Regions from separate parts of the Homo sapiens genome. Here region 1 is linked to region 2. Evidence: fine-mapped expression QTL. A gene starts in region 2. The other region holds a variant in brackets. All regions are shown on one strand. Distances are from middle to middle.

What was found. PIP is the estimated chance that this variant, and not a neighbour inherited with it, causes the effect. A credible set is the group of variants that fine-mapping cannot tell apart.
Region 1: its variant is the best candidate, but not a certain one, in a credible set for the expression of KCNQ5 in whole blood (TOPMed, PIP 0.50).

Annotation. Positions count from the first base shown.
Region 1 is chr6:72,540,138-72,545,517 of GRCh38, reverse strand. No RefSeq gene overlaps it. Among named protein-coding and RNA genes, the nearest start is that of KCNQ5, 79 kb to the left of the region's middle. The variant C/T (reference allele first, on the strand shown) is at 2,216.
Region 2 is chr6:72,619,119-72,624,498 of GRCh38, reverse strand. It overlaps KCNQ5 (potassium voltage-gated channel subfamily Q member 5), which reads right to left and starts at 2,435. Exons shown (of 14, transcript NM_019842.4): 1 at 1,912-2,435. The coding sequence starts at 2,309. KCNQ5-DT (KCNQ5 divergent transcript) reads left to right here and starts at 1,820. Exons shown (of 3, transcript NR_186827.1): 1 at 1,820-1,967. RefSeq lists silencers at 1,101-1,150, 2,181-2,440 and enhancers at 799-1,750, 3,861-4,050.

The DNA of each region.
Region 1 (5,380 bases), 79 kb after region 2:
TTTGCTCATCCATGAGAAGCAACTCCTCATCTGTTCAAGTTTTATCAGGGGATTGCAGCAATTCAGTCACATCTTTAGGCTCCATTTCTAATTCTAATTCTTTTGCTATTTCCACCAGATCCGTAGTTACTTTCTCTAGTGAAGTCTTCAACTCCTCAAAGTTATCCATGAGGGTTAGGTTAACTTCTTCCAAACTCCTATTATTGATGGTTTTTTGACCTCCTCTCATGAATTACTAATATTCTAAAGCATTTATCATGATGAATTCTTTCCAGAAGCTTTGAAATTTATTTTGCCCAGATCCATGAGAGGAATAACTACCTATGGTAACTATAGCCTTACAAAATATATTTCTGAAGTAATAAGACTTAAATGTAGAAATTGCTACTCGATCCATGGGCTGCAGAATGAATATTGTGTTATAAGCCATTAAAATAACATTTATCTCCTTGTATATCTTTATCAGAGCTCTTGAGTAACCAGGCGCATTGTCAATGACCAGTAATATGTTGAAAGAAATCTTTTCTTCTGAGAAGTAGATCTCAACAATGGGTTTAAAATATACAGGAAACCATGCTGTAGACAGAAGTGGCATCATCCAGGCTATGTTCAATTTATAGAGCGCCAGAAGAATAGATTTAACATAATTTTAAAAAGTCTTAAAATTTTCAGAATGGTAAATGAACATTGGCTGCGATTTAGAGTCACTAACTGCATGAGCCCCTAACAAGAGAATCAGCCTTTCCCTTGAAGCTTTGAAACAAGGCATTGACTTTCCTCTCCAGTTATGGAAATCCTATGTGGCACTTTCTTCCAACAAAAGACTATTTTTTCTACCTTGAAAATCTATTGTTTAGTGTAGCCACTTTCATTAATTATCTTAGCTGGATCTTCTGGATAACTTGCTGCAGCTTCTACATGAGCACTTACTGTTTCACTTTGCAATTTTAGGTTGTGGAGATGGCTTCTTCAACTTCATGAACCAGTCTCTGCCAGCTTCCAACTTTTCTTCTCTAGTTTTTCTCATCTCTCTTGGCCTTCATAGAATAGAAGAGAGTTAGGGCCTTGTTACACCATCAAGAAAATAGAAGGCTTGGACAACATTAAATACCAACCAGACAGATACAGAACACTACACTCAAAAACAGCAGAATACACATTTTTCTGAAGTGCACATGGAACATTCTGTAAGATTCATTATAAGTTTGGCTATGACTTTTGTTAAATTTAAAAGAATGAAAGTCATGCAAAGTATATTCTCTGACTACCATAGAATAAAATTAGAAATCATTAACAGAAGAAAATTTTAGAAGTGAACAAAGATGTAGAAATCAAACCTCACATTCCTAAATAACCAATGGGTCACATAAGAAATCAGAAGGGAAATTGGAAAATAGTTTGAGATGAATGAAAATGAAAACACATCATACCAAAACTTAAGAGATGTGGCAAAAGCAATATGAATAGTAAATTTATAGTTGTAAATTGTCAATATTAAAAGAAAAAAAGAAATCAGCAATTTAACTTTCTCTGTAAAACTAGGAAAAGGAGCAAATTAATTAAATCAAGTCAAAGGAAAAACATAATAAAAATTATAATGAAAATAAATAAAATTGGGAATAGAAAAACAATAGAAAAGTCAGTAAAATCAAGAGAGGAGGGACATCACAAGATGGTTGACTGGAAGTTCCTAGCACTTTTTCCCCTCACAAAGATAGCCAGAAAAACAAATAAACAACTACATTTTAACAAAAATAATGAAGGCGGAGTGTCAGAGTTAATCAGACAAGTGATAGAAACCCTGGTGTGCAAAGCTATTCAGGATGGCCATATAAAGAATGGAAGGAAAGGCCAAAGCTACACTACTTCATCCCACAACTGGGATACAGGAGAAACTTGTCCCTCAGGTAAGGAGGTAAGCAAGAAGATCTCAGCATCTCCCATCAACACCCTGGACACCTACAGACCTCACCACTGGGGTCCCCTGCAATTCTCATGGGGACTAAGCCTATTTGACAGAGCTGCCTGGAGTCCACATAGTTGTGCTCTGCTCAGAGAAGGAATTAACATTCTGCCCTATCCTCTGTGCCACATATTGCTACTGTATTACACCATCTTGAACTGGAACTATGCTTGGCATGTGTCTTGTTCCAGGAGCAAGTAGCCACAGTTACCCTTCATCCCTGAGGCTAAGCCATCACTGAACCACCATCAA[C/T]TGTGACCCAACATCCCCAACGAGAGCTGTGAGCAGCTGTTACAACCTTACCCATAGGACCAAATGGAGGTAGAGCTGCTCCACCTACCCCTTCCCCTCCCACCTCAAACCAGAGCTGAAGCAATACCCTGCACCTTGAAAAACAGTACTTTGGCCACTAAGAACAGTCATGCCTCCCTAATGCCCAAGTTGAAGTAGCACCCTGCATTTTAAAAAATGATGCCTTGTCTACCTAGAGCAGTCACACATTCCAGTATCTACATTGAAGCAGTGCCCTGCAACTCAGATAAATGGTACCTGGGTTGCTCAGAAAAAATCATGCTTCCAGCTATGAGCTAAAGTAGCACATTGCCCTGCTGGGGAATTGGTGCCCTGGCCCAGCTGGGCTGCTGCTCATTCCAGGGATGAGCTGACATAGTACACTGCATTCCAGGAGAACAGAGCACTGGTTGATTTGAGAGACCCCACCCTACAGGCCAAACTACTAAACTCTAATATTCTGCTTCCCTTGAGCTGGACTAGCCCTCTAGAGTCTTTGCTGCTGAAATATCGCTGTTCTTGGGGAGTGGGGTTATTGCTATACTGTTTTCTGTTCTTCTCCACCAGGGCCCAAACAACATCTGTGCTCTGCCAGTCTGGAGTACTTGCTACCACTGTGTCTGGATTCACAGAGTCTGGGATACTGCCAAGCCCCACCATCACAGGGTCAAGGGTCACTACTGCACAATGTCTCAATTCTCGGGACCTGAATTGCCATTAAGATGTATTGGCTCAAGTTTCTGAATTGCAACTTTACCCTACCTTCTAGGACCAATCCTCCAGAGCACTTCTTTTCCCCTAGAGTTGGGCCGATGCTGTGCCCTGACTTTCATGGGTAGAATCATAGCTACAGCCTGGTCCCTTGGCCCAAGCAGCTAGGAAATATCTCAGAGTCACAGATCCTGGCTTTGTAGGCAGCCTGCATTCAACCGTGCCACAGAACATAAACCTATACCCTAAGACCAAGCTGTCGTAATAAGTTTGTGAGATTCTGAGCCTAGGACCTTGACCCCACAGTTGCTTCAAACACCTGAACTCTACAGCCTAGACTACTGAGACATTCACAGTTTATTGCTGATGTTGAACACAGCTGAAGAAGCTACATGGAGACTGTAACACTGCACTTATCTGGAAACACCGTCTCTACATCCTTCTCAACTGGCACACTAAAACCCAACTGGAGGTGAAATTCTTTCTCTATGAAAGCCACTCTAGAAACTATGGAAGAGGTCATTGCCCCACCAGATACACAGACGTCAATGCAGGCACACAAAAAACTGCAAAAACCAAATAAAATGTGACACCACCAAAGAAACATAATTCTCTAGTAAGAGATCCCAATGAAATTGAAATCAATAAATTACCAGAAAAGGACTTCAAAATAATTGATTTTAAGGAAACTCAATGAGATACAATGGAACAGACAGATAATTTAGCAAAACCAGGAAATAATTCACAATATGAATGATAAGTAAAACAAAGAGATAGAAACCATGAAAAAAGAATCAAACTGAAATCCTGCAGTTTAAACTAAAGAACCTCTGCATAGCAAAAGAACTTATGCACAGCAAAATAAACTATCAACAGAGTAAACAGACAACCTACAAAATGGGAGAAAATATTTACAAACTATCAATCCAATAAAGGTCTAATATCTAGAATCTATAAGGAATTTAAACAAATCAACAAACAAAAAACAAATAACCCAAGTAAAAAGTGGGCAAAAGACATGAACGGACACTTCTCAAAATAACATATATAGGCAGCTAGCAGACATGAAAATCATCACTAATCATCATCACTAATCATCATTGAAGTACAAATCAGAGCCACAGTGAGATACCACTCCATAGTAGTCAGGATAACTATTAAAAAGTCAAAAACAACATATGTGGTCAAGGCTGCAGAGGAAATGAAACACATACACTCTTAGTGGAAATGTAATTGCACTAACTGTAAAAAGCAGTTTGAAGCTTTTTCAAAGAACTTCAAACAGAGCTACCATTTGACCCAGCAATCGCATTACAGGGTATGTATCCAAAAGAAAATAAATTGTTCTACCAGAGAAACATATGCACTTATACATTTAGCAGCACTATTCACAATAGCAAAGACATGAATCAACATAAGTGCCCATCAGTTGTTAAAGGTAAAGAAAATGTGATACCTATACACCATGGAATACTACAGAGCAATAAAACATGGAATCATGTCTTTTGCAGTAACATGGATGCAACTGGAGGCCATTATCCTAAGTGAATTAGTGTAGGAACAGAAAAGCAAATACCACTTGTTCTCACTTATAAGTGGGAGCTAAACATTGGGTACTCATGTACATAAAGGCAGCAACAATAGACACTTGGAACTAACAGAGGCAGGGTGAAAGGGGGCAAGGGTTGAAAAATAACTATTGGATACTATACTCACTTCCTGGGTTACAAAATCATATACCAAACCTCAGCATCATGCAATATGCCCATGTAACAAGCCTGCGTATGTATCCTCTGAGTGTAAAATAAAAGTTGAAATTATTTAAAAAAAGAATTCAATGAATGAAAGAGAAAATACAATAGAAAGCAGCAACAGCAGACTTTATCAAACAGAACAAAGAATCATTGGAATTGCTGATAGATTGTTTGTAATTACTGATACAAAAGAAAAAATAAATAAAAATGGAAAAGAGTAAAGAAAGCCTACAAGACTTATGAGACATTATTAAGGTAACAAATATTCATATTATGGGAGTTCCAGAAGGGAAAAACAAGAGAGGAAGTATAGAATACCTATTTAATAAAATGATAGTTGAAAACTTTTCAAGTCTTGTGGGGGTGGGGGGGTGGGGGCGGGGCAGGGAGGTGGAATGTGGACATCCAGATCCAGGAAGATCAAAGGTCCCCAAATAAATTCAACCTAAAAAATCCTCCTCCAAAGTACATTATAGTAAATTGTCAAAAGTCAAAGACAAAGACAGAAAACAGAATTCTAAATACAGCAAAAGTATCAAGTCACTACAAGGTAATCCCAATTAGACTAAAAGCAGATTTCTCCACAGTAATCTTTTAGATTAACAGAGAATAGAAAGAAACATTCAAAGCACTGAAAGAAAAATAATTGCCAACAAAGAAT
Region 2 (5,380 bases):
CTCATTCATGTTCAAGAACAAGTTAGGAGATGCAAAGTATGTGCACCAACCAAGGCTTTCTTTAACTCTCTCTGAATATACAATGCATAATATAAAAAAAAGAAAGGCTAGAAATGTTTTGAGCATACTGTTGTAAAGAAAAAATCATAACCTATACAGTATATATATTTGCTACCAAATTGAGCATTATAATTGCTAAATTATTTTAGTATATTCTGACAGGTCAAAATAATTTACCAGGCTTATTAAGTAATATGTTTAATTACATATCAGGTCAGAGGAGATTAACGAGAAAAGTGTCAGTTGCATTTCTCTATCATTATCCTAACCACATTTAAATAAATGTGAATTTTACATAAAAGTTATACTTTTTGATGTAATGATGATGCAACACAACCGTTCTCCTTGTGTGCATTGTAAAACGGAAAGTTGGCTGGAATATTCTGCCTAATGCTACATGTTCACGTCAATCTGGGACTGTAAAATTTTCCAGACACCAGAGCCCCACAGATTGTAGACTCCACCAATTTCCTGACTCCTATGTGGTTGAATTCCAGGTTCACCTAGTTACAAAACCAGCCCTTCTTCCATGTTATTTCAAAACACGTTTCTGGTGTTGATGCTAATTCTGCATCCCAGGAGAGAGCTATGTATGGATGACATAACTTATTTCTAAAAGAAACCTAGTCCGTGTGCTCAAAACTTATTTTACTAGGAAACAAGGAATGTATCAGCGAGTATCTGCAACTTTCTCTACTGGTCTTCTAAGGTTGATGTCTTTATATTTCATCTTAACAAAAAAGAAGCAGAAATAATAATACTAAAAAAAGAGGAAGCAAAAGGAGAAGAGGAAGAAAAAAAGAATTAGACACGAGGTAACATTATAAAAACAACCTTAAAATGCCCAGATAAACGTAACTCTAATAGGAGACTGAATGAATGGACTTTGTGGGAAAAACAGTAGTAAACTTTAAAGCCACTGAAAGGTTTTAAATGCCTAAGGGAAAAATAAACATTTGCTTCCAATCATTTTCTCATTAAGCATTCTCTGCTAGATGGAGAAGGCTTACTACACACACACACACACACACACACACACACACACACTCTTTGACTCCGCGCCACAAACGGGGACTTAACCCACTGCCCGATCTCTGTCAGAGGCGACCCATTTGCGCTTCTGCTATCGCACCTCCGCCCGCGTTCCTGCGCCCCAGGTTCCCCGCTGCCTCCCCGCCCCCTGCAGCGCGGGAGCGTTGCTTCGCCTGGCCTGCTGGCCTCCTCTAGACCTTGGCCACCTTCTCCGTGGCAGGAAGGGCTACATGCACTGACAGATTTTCCGTTGGTGGTGGCTGGGTGGTGGCGAGGCGTGTTTCCGGGCGCGCTTAAAACCTAGCAGCTCTCTCCAAGTAGCAGCTTCCCCTACTCCGCCCCTAGGACTGAGGACCTAGCCCTCGATGCCCCCTCACTTCTCCCCGTCCTACCCCGCCATCACCTCCTAACCTCTCCAGTATACTCTCAAGCCTCACACGGGCGCCTGTCCTCCCTTTGCATTCCCTAGCTCCCGGGCGCCCCGTTCGGTTGAAGTTTACGTATCTTGGGACCTAATTGCTCCCAATTATCCGCGCAGCCTAAGTCCCGCGTCTGCCTGGCTCTCGCCCCGGGAGCCTGAAGCTACCGGGCAGTTCATTGGGTGTCCTCGGGGAAAAGGTTCAAGCTGTAGAGATGAGAGAAGTGGGGCTGGGGGAGGGGAGAGGCTCCAGAAGGAAGACCACGAACACGTGCGAAGAAATAAAAGCCACCACGTGTGCACGCGCGCGGGGGCCCAAGGGCGCGAGCGCGGAGCACGCCCCAGGGGGCCAGGGACAGTGGTCCCCTGCAGCGGGCATAGCAGGGGGCGCGGGTACTCACACGAAAGCGTGGTAGATGAACGCCCAGCCGCGGGGTCTCTCCAGCACGTTGTACAGGTAGTTCTGCACCCGCCGGTACTTGACGTTGCGCCGGCAGCTCTGGCTACTCGTGTAAGAGAGCGGCTTCCCCAGCAGGCTCATCCGGGCCCCCTGCTTGCCCCGGCGGCTCTCCCTCAGGCCACCGCCGCCGCCACCGAGCGTGGCCGCGCGGGTGCCCAGCAGTAGCAGGCCGTCGCCCCTGGCGGCTGCCGAGTTCAGCAGCACCCTGCCCCGGCCGGACTCCACATCCTTCATGCCGCTGCCCAAGCGCCCCCCGCCCGCCGCCGCCGCCGCTGCGCCGCTCTTCACCCAGAGCCCGGCGGCGCCGCCCTCCTCTCCTCCCGCGTGGTGGCGGGGCATGGCATCACCACGGGCACCGCGAGGGGGCCGCCAGCGCCTGCGGCGGGGGCAGCGGCCTCATGTGCGCCGGCGGGTTTCAAGGAGGAAGCCGGCGGCCGACGGGGCGCCCGCCAGCCAGAGACCTCTGAGCCGGGGGCGGGGAAGCAGGCAGCCAGCAAACCGCCCGGGCTTCGGGGCGGGAAAGGAGGGGCTGCAGAGGAGGCCGAGGAGTCCCAATTTCTAACAGCCTTTAGCTTCGAATTCTAAATCCGGACCTGTTTGGGGCGTCACTTTGAGAGGGTTTCTCTTGCTCCCTCATTCCCGCGACTACCACTCCCTCCTTCCCAAACTGCCCCCGGGGATAGAGTGGGGGAGTGCGGGGCGCTCCGAGGCGCGCTCCCACGCGCGCACACCCAGCCCCAGGCTTCCCCTTCCCTCTCTCCACTCCCCACGCCCTGCAGCGAAACGGCCCCAGAAGCCCCTCTCCGAGGCGCGAGTTCGGTTTGGTTCTGGCAGGGGCTTTGCAGCTGTCCGGAAGGTGAAGTCAGCCTTGTGTCCTGAGGAGAAACTGGAGATGCAGGTCGCTGTGCCCTCCCGCTGCTACGTCGCTGCGCCGGATCCTGCCATCCTTCCGCAAGGGGTGAGAGCGGGAACAGCCCTGCCCTGCCTTCCAGGTATTATCTAGCCTGGAGGCTGGAGCGCAAGGTAACGCTCCGGGAAGTGGCACTCGGGTCCCCGCACACGGGCGAGTCCTCAGCAGTTCAGTGGACAGACCCGCAGGACGCGGCTGCCAAGTCCGCGAGGCAAGGACCAGGCATCTTCCCGCGCCTCACTCCAGCCTGCGGACTGTGACTTTCCATCCCAGTATCAGACAAGCTCGCGAGTAACTGAACATCCTTTCCAGTCCATGGGTGGGGTGTGGAAAGGGCGTAAAACTCCAAAGTGGCTCCTCCGCGGTGAGCGAGCTGCCCCGGGGCTCTGCCTGACTGCAGCGCGAAGCCTGGGAGAACAAACCCAGTTCCCTCCGTCAAGAAATTTCCATTTAAGTCCGAGAAAGTCATATGATTGAGAAGTTCAGCAGCGGCGGCGAGGACCCAGTGTCTGGGAAAGAACACCTGGAGGATGGGGTGTCCAGGACGCCGGCTTTTCGGGGTTCCGACCCCACCCACCTTATGTTGTAACATACAAGCTTAGAGACCTGTTGCAAGGAACAACTGACTGGGTCTTCCACCACCCCTGGCACCCGGGTGGCCCAAAGCCTATGCGCCCTTGGCGGAGAGAGAGGCCACGGTGCCACTGGCCGCAGCCTCTGGCCTTCAGAAACAGTGTATTACAAAGAAAAGGCAGTTTAAATCTCACATTCAGCATAGGGAAAACTGAAGGGTGCCAGGCTCGGGGACTTCTTCCAACAGAGTGGCTCTTCCCCAAATATGAAAGAAAATCATCAAATTAAATTGAAGGCAAAACTAAGCTTCCACCACAAAGACATAGCAGATAGTTGCAAGGTGGATTCCTTCGGGCCTTTTCCTTTCCTAAGGCTAAAACAATGCTAAGACAAAAGTCTTCTTGCAGCTGTCTCCGCCCCTCCGAGATAAATACTTTCCCAATTCTCCCCCACCCTGTACACACACCCACGCCCGCGGCAGCTGATTTCTGTCTTCTGCAATAGCTCGATTTAAATGCTTTGCTTTTACTCTTTATTATCACTATTATTTGTGTGAAGCCCTCTCGCCTGCTCCTGGTCACCAGCAGGAGCCTGCTTCCCTCCCTCCTTCCCCCCAAGCCTCTGGGCAGCAGAAGCTAGCTGGGAGCTCTGTGCAGCTGGCGGCGACGCCATGTGACTGTGAGCCGAGCACCATCACCCAGAGTCACTCTCTAGCTTTCCCCTAATACACTTCACACCCACGCACTGTGGAGGTGCGAGAGAGGTTGCTCCGTGCGGTGCTATTCGAGGCAGATGCAGAGAGCGCCCTGGAGTAAGCTCTCCAATCCTAGAGCTGCGCGGGACCCTGACTGAAGGCGGAGGGGGCGGGAGGGGGTGCTGTTGCTATATTTAGACTCCCTATGGAGTTTCTGTGCAGGGACTTTCAGGGTGAAAGATCTAGAGACTTAAAATGACTCGTGTGCCCGCTTTAAACGTCAAAATCTTGGCCTTTCTGCAAGCAGTAAAATGAAAACCACTTCCTCTTAACTTAGCTGTTTTCCTTGTTGCAGACTGCTACTTTCGCTGGGTAGGTAAAGTCACTTCCATCTCTCTGGCGCGGCTGGGCCCCGCGTGCAGGCAAGAAGTCTCAGGAAGGCAGGACACAGGGACACGTTTCCCTGGAAGACAGCCAGCTGTTTAATTTCTAAGTGATGCTTTTCTGGGGATGCAGCATTAGTTCTAGTGAAACTGTATTATTGATTAAGCAAATGCCATTTAAGCTTAATTAAAAAATAAAAAAGACCCGGTTACTGGTAGCCGTTTTGAGCTGCTGAGAAGGACCTTTCACTTATGTCTTCTAGAGTAACCGCCATTTGGATACACAGCCCAGAAAAAGAGGGCCTGCTCAAGTTTTCGCGGGTAGTGTGAGAGTTACTAGGAATCCAACAACCTGGCTTCCTAGTTCACTGTTCCTTCCACCAATCAATCTGCATCTCCAGCAGAGAATGGATAAAATAGCAAACAGTTCTGGGGTTTTGTATCAATCTCTGACTGCAACCATTGGGAAAGACTGGCTTAGCTGAAGTTCTAACCTTCCTACCTTTCAATGCCCAGAAAGAAAAAGCCAAGTGAGTCTGTGCCAACCTCTCCTACAAGAGCCTCTGTTTGCACCTTGCTTTATTTGCTACCTGCTAACTTCCCTCAAAAGACGGGAATTAACTTTGGAGAAAATAAGGTGTTTGCGATTAAGCTTTGTTGTTGTTCCTTTGAATACAGACGTTGCTAGGAAACTGCCTTTTATTAGTTCGTTTTGCTGAAATATTAAAATTCAAATTTAGAAAAGAGGATAGGCATACTGAGCAGTGAGTAAAACAGTGTATATTCTATGCATTATAATTACATTAGAGCATTATGAAGAGGTAAAGGCAAATGTTAACTGCTAGTGTAA